Linked DNA regions of Homo sapiens: region 2 is linked to region 1. Evidence: fine-mapped QTL for protein levels in blood plasma. A gene starts in region 1. The other region holds a variant in brackets. All regions are shown on one strand. Distances are between the middles of the regions. Region 1 holds the start of TIMP4 (TIMP metallopeptidase inhibitor 4). Region 2 overlaps SYN2 (synapsin II).

Evidence for each region. A credible set is the group of variants that fine-mapping cannot tell apart. PIP is the posterior inclusion probability: the model's chance that the variant is causal. Sun 2018 read protein levels with aptamers (SomaScan).
Region 2: its variant is the best candidate, but not a certain one, in a credible set for the plasma level of the TIMP4 protein (Sun 2018, PIP 0.90).

The regions. Positions count from the first base shown.
Region 1 is chr3:12,157,273-12,160,190 of GRCh38, forward strand. TIMP4 (TIMP metallopeptidase inhibitor 4) reads right to left here and starts at 1,640. Exons shown (of 5, transcript NM_003256.4): 1 at 1,430-1,640; 2 at 113-210. The coding sequence starts at 1,568. The region is part of intron 5 of SYN2 (synapsin II); the gene reads left to right.
Region 2 is chr3:12,054,888-12,057,805 of GRCh38, forward strand. All of the region lies in intron 1 of SYN2 (synapsin II), which reads left to right. Among named protein-coding and RNA genes, the nearest start is that of SYN2, 52 kb to the left of the region's middle. The variant G/T (reference allele first, on the strand shown) is at 1,282.

The sequences.
Region 1 (2,918 bases):
ACCCAAGGATTACTGAGCCAGGCCACCTGAAAGCTACCAGCCCTCCCAGAACACAGACTCCACTTTCTCCATCAGCCTTAGGGGCTACACATCCCAGCCTGCCCCCATGTACCTTTATCTGTTTGATTTCATACCGGAGCATTTTTTCAGTGTCAGCAGGGTCTGCACTGGCCGGAACTACCTTCTCACTGGAGATTTTGGCCCGAATCACTGCATAGGAAGAGAAAAGAGGGAACCTTCAGCAGCTGGTGGGGGCAATACACCTGAGGTCTGGATGATCCAGGGTCCATGAAGAAGTCTATAGGGCAGTTCTTGGTTTTGGTGTGGCTGGGTTGTGAGCAACGTGATGTGTGAGAAGGGGGACCTGGAAACACCTCCCCTGCAGTCACTGGAAGTTCCAAACCCCTCAGGCTTATTAGGTCCTATAACCGCTAAGCTGTTTCTGCCTTTTGAACCAGTTAGTCTGGAGAGCTCTAGTTCTCCATAGCCGTTTGTGCAGTGGGGCACAGGGTAGGAGTCAGAGTAGAGAAGGGAGGAGGAGCCCCTTCAGGGCAGTCGGTGTGAAGTTTATCTATTGCTGTGGTCAAGGCCTCTCATCCCGCCTACAGTTGATATTAGTAAATGTTTATTGAATTCATAAATGTTCTGACCCTGCACTGAGGTATTGCATCTCTTGCCATTTGAGCATTAATAACCAAAAACTGTTGATGATGTTCTTCCTCTGTGCCTGGCCTTGCACTAGGCACTAGGCCCATAGATGTGATTAAGACAGGGTCCCCATCCTGCCGAGCTCTTGATCTAGTGGAGTGCACACGTGTAAAGAACAACAGCACAGCATAGTAGGAGCGCTAAGACGGTTAGAGATGCTGAGGCGGCACCAAGGAGCCCGGGAGCCTGCAGAGAAGGGGAGAGACCTAAGTTAGCCCTTGAAGGATGAGTAGGAGTCTGCCAGGAATTTAAGGGTGTGAGGGAGGGCATTCCAGGCAGAGGGAAGAGAAAGGACAGAACGTGTGTGTTGCCATAGGGGCTTGGTGGCAACCTCAGTTATAGGCCTGGACAGACACGGGTAGTTACAATGCAAGCCCTCTCCCCTCCCCTTTCTGTCCCCAGTCTAGTAGTTCAGAATAATCATCAGATAGCTCCGGTGACACCTTGTGTAATGACACTCCATAATTGCAGTATGGCCGGAGTGAGGGAGGTCGCTATGGAAGTCCCTGATGAAATCTTCATTTCCTTATGAATCAGTCAGGTTCTGGGCTTGCAAGGTTGCTATGGCGCCTGGTCCTTCTCCACCCATCAGCCTCAGCAAGAGACAACCGGTAAGAATTTGAGCTCCTCCCTTTTCCTCTGGACTCCTGGTGTACTGCTGGCCAGATACTAATCCCCCACAACCACCCCCTGCTGTGGACCTCGCGGACCTCGGACTCACCAAGTGCCGAGTGGCAGATGTGCTGCTGAGGGTGCGCCGGGGCGCAGCTGCATGCCTCACCCAGCCCCGGGGGCCGCAGCAACGCCAGCAGCCGCAGCAACAGCACCCAGCTTGGCGCGGGCCGAGGGCTCCCAGGCATGACACTGCAGATCCGCGACTGAGCCTGTGAGGTCTGGGGGACTGGACGGCCCCAGCAGGGCTCCTTCCCAAGGCCGTTGTGCCCCTCGCCCCAGGCTTTATGAGGTGGCCCTAAGGGCCAATCCCGCCCCGACGGGCTCCGCCTTCCTTTGGCTCTAGGCCACCCGCGGAGGCAGGACCCGAGGCTCTTCCGACCTGCATACTCAGTAAGATGCAGAGGGAAGCCTGGAAGGAGGCCCTGACCTCTGTTTCCCTGCCTAAGTCATGAAGCGATCTGGAAGCAGAGGGGAAGCACTGGGAGAGGGGATGGTGTCAAGGGCAGAAAGACGGAAAGAGCCACAAAGACAAATGCATGAGGACAGAAAAACTGAGGGCTGTGATTCAGGCAGAAAGAACAAGAGTGAGGAGAGGCACAGACAGAAAGAGTGAGACAGGCAGAGTCCCAGAGAGGCAGACAGAATTACAACAGGCAAAAGAGACAGTGACAGAGAAGGACGGACCCCTTGCTGAGCTGCACGCTGGGAATGAGACGAGCTACTCAGGGCTTCTTTCAGCTGCAGGAAGTGCTTTCAATGCCCTATTTATGAGGCTCCAAAGCAACAGCAAACAGTAATAGAACAGGACAGAGAAAGTTGGGGTGTGTGTGTCTTGGCTCTGTTGCCTGGGGGGTGGGGAGAGATGTCAAAGAAGCAGCCAGTGCTTTAGAAACCCTTTCTCACTCCCAGAGCCTCAGACTCTCCAGATAGCTGGAGACAGCGCTCTTGGTGTACAAAACACAAAGTGTCCCATCACTTAGGGCAAACCTTGGACCTCAAAGCCCTCTCGAGGCCCTAGACTACATTGATTTTTATTGCATGTCCCTTCTCACTGGAGACTCTGTCATGTTCTAGAAGGTGGGACAGCTTAGAAAACAAAGAAGCAGGCTGGGCGTGGTGGCTCACGCCTGTAATCTCAGCACTTTGGGAAGCCAAGGCGGGTTGATCACCTGAGGTCAGGAGTTCGAGATCACCCTAGCCATCATGATGAAACTCCGTCCCTACTAAAAATACAAAAGTTAGCCGGGCGTGGTGGCCTACACCTGTAGTCCCAGGTACTCAGGAGGCTGAGGCAAGAGAATGGCTTGAACCCAGGAGGCGGAGGTTGAAGTGAGCTGAGACTGTGCCACTGCACTCCAGTCTGGGCGACAGAGTGAGACTCCGTCTCAAAAAAAAAAAAAAAAAAAAAAAAGTAAAAGAAAAAACAAAGAAGCAGGGGACTTGGGGGTGACTGTGACCAGAGCCTTGTCTGCTGTTTGGGCACAGTGTTGCAAGCCTCCAAATCCCAAATCTCCATGGGATTATTGCTGTGGGAT
Region 2 (2,918 bases), 100 kb before region 1:
TCTGGGTCAAAAATAATTTTTCTTCAAAATTTAGAAAAGTACTGCTTTTGTTTTCTAGCATCCTTTATTAGTGTTGATAAATTTAATATTGATTGGTCAAGAAGACAGAAAGTGAACAGTATAGGAGATCTGAATGCCAAAATTAAAAAGCTTGATACTTGACCTTTTGGACATATAGATTTTTATATTTAACAATTTAAGAACACACAGTTTCTCAAATATTCATGGAACATTCATAAAAATTAATATGAATAAAGCAGAGAACACATCAACACATTTCAAAAAGATATAGAATGATCTTTGACTATAATGAAATTAGAAGTTAATATAAAAAGATGAAAATCTTAAAAATTCCCCATGTATTTTGAAAATTTGAAAACACCACTAAATAATTAATGTAAATTAAAAATACCTAGAAGGTAATGACAATGAAAACACTACATAACGATATTTAAGAGATGCAGCAAAGGCAGTATTTTGAAGAAAACTTTTATTTTAAATATATTAGACAAGAAAGCTTTAAAAATGAATGAGCTCCATTTTGTGAAGTTATCAAATGAAGAGAATAAACTTAAAGGAAAAAAGAAATATGAAAAATAATGGATTTCCTTGCATACAGGAAAGATCTGGGATTTTGTGATTGTGTTGATTCTGTGGTTCAATTTTTGGAGAAATTATATATTTGCAGTTATGAATTTTTAGAACATGAACATGGTATATCCCACCAACTGTTTGAGGCTTTAAAAACTCTCAAATTATGCTTTGTGGTTTTTAAAGGCAGAAGTCTTTTACATATTTAGTTGCCTTTCTCTCTGGGTATTTGGTGGTTCTTTTGATGCTATTATAAATGGTATTACTCTTTGAATTTCATTTTCTATTTATTGGCTGTTGGCACATGGGAATAAAATGAATTTTTGCATAAAAATGATAAAATTAGAGTATTACCGTTTTGCAACTCCCATTGAATTAATGCATCTAGGTATTGAACATCAACAGCTGTTAATATCACAGAAAGGCAGACTTTATGAGCTCCTGATAAAAGGAATCTAACAGGAGTCTGATCAAGCCTCTGCGTCCAGCTGCCAATTTGTGGGAAACACAAAGAATGGAGAAAGACGATCTTCCTGGTGAGAGTGTAATCAGCAAAACTGCTACTATGGGAAATTCTACATATGGATCAAGATGCTCCAGGCTCTTGAACAGATCAACTCTAAGGAAAATAAAGGGATGCACAGGGAAACCTGTGGATTAAAAGAGATTTGGAAGACAAAGTTGTGTTTT[G/T]TTTTTTTTTTTTTAAATAGGCAACTGTAAACTGTAGTGTTTAAGAATATACACTTGAATACAAGCATAAGGAAGTAATTCCATAAAAGTCAAGAGAGTGGTTACCTTTGCGGGGAAGGAGGGGGTCAAGACTGGGACTGGGTATTGAAGTTGCTCCTGGGGTGGCTGTCAAAATTGGTTTATTAACCTGGATGGTGGATACATGAGTGTTTGCCTTATAACAACTCATTAAACTCATTAAGCAATACTCTTTTTTTTTAATTTTGATGTGGCTTTCTGTATCTTTGTTTTATTTTACAACATAAAGTTTAAAGAAAAAAATGTTTTCTGTTGTATGAACAAGAGCAAGAGGATTAGTGGGCAGAGAGGAGAAAAGAAGGGCACCTATATATTAAAAATATTTTTGCCTAAGGTATACTAGACTTTGTACTAGAGCATTTCACACCTGTTATCTTGACATTCAAAATGGATTATTCTTATTTGGCAGAGTCTCAGAAGTTAAATAATTTCCTCATGGTAATGAGTAGGGGGCAGGAGTTCAAGCCCAAATTTGATTGATTCCAAAGCAGACTTTCTACTTCCCTCATTTACTGATGTTGGCAAATAGAAGTGTGGGTGGTATACCAATGTCTCTCTAAACCTAGTGTCTATAGTATCTAGCCTTCAGTTAGTCACCCTCCTAAAAAGTTGTGTCCTTTGTGTATATTAAAAATTATATGGAAACATGTATATTCTCACCCTCTCAACTAATCTGTTATATAAAAGACTGGTTATATTACTTGTTCTAACAGAACAAAAATGATAATTCTAAGACAAGATATGAAAATATAGTGACATCTGGGCCAGGTGTGGTGGCTCACGCCTGTAATCCCAGCACCTTTGGGAGGCTGAGGCAAGCGGATCACTTGAGGTCAGGAGTTCAAGACCAACTTGGCCAACGTGGTGAAAACCCATCTCTACTAAAAATACAAAAATTAGCTGGGCGTGGTGGCATGCGCCTGTAATCCCAGCTATTCGGGAGGCTGAGGCAGGAGAATTGCTTGAACCCAGGAGGCAGAGGTTTCAGTGAGCCAAGATCGTGCCACTGCACTCCAACCTGGGCGACAAGGCAAGACTGTCTGTGTGTGTGTGTGTGTGTGTGTGTGTGTGTGTGTGTATACTTTTTGACATCTTTAAATCCCTTATTTTTAGGGGAATTGTTTTTCTAGTGAAACATGAACAAAGATATTTGAAATGAGTTTCAAATATAGTCCAGCAGCTGAGAAGTCCTAGAACAATCTTAAACATATAAAAATTAGGCTACAGGAAGGGATTTTATTTTCAGTCCTCTTATGTGATATGACTTTAGCCATGAACATTGTATAAATTTGGATTAGACATGCCTGTAGGATGACTAAGATTCAAACTTATTTCTTTGGTTACAGTTTGATTTTAGAAAGTTGGCTTTATATTTTGTAGTTTTGATTTTGATTATTGATTTCTCAGCATTTGATTCAGTCTGATAACTTTGGGCTCTTAATTTATGGATAACTGGTTTCCAATCTCTATAGCTTTCTGCTTTTCCACTCCCGTGACATGCTTTTACTGTTACTATGAGACAATCAGGGAAGATTTTATGAAAAAATATAGTGGAAATA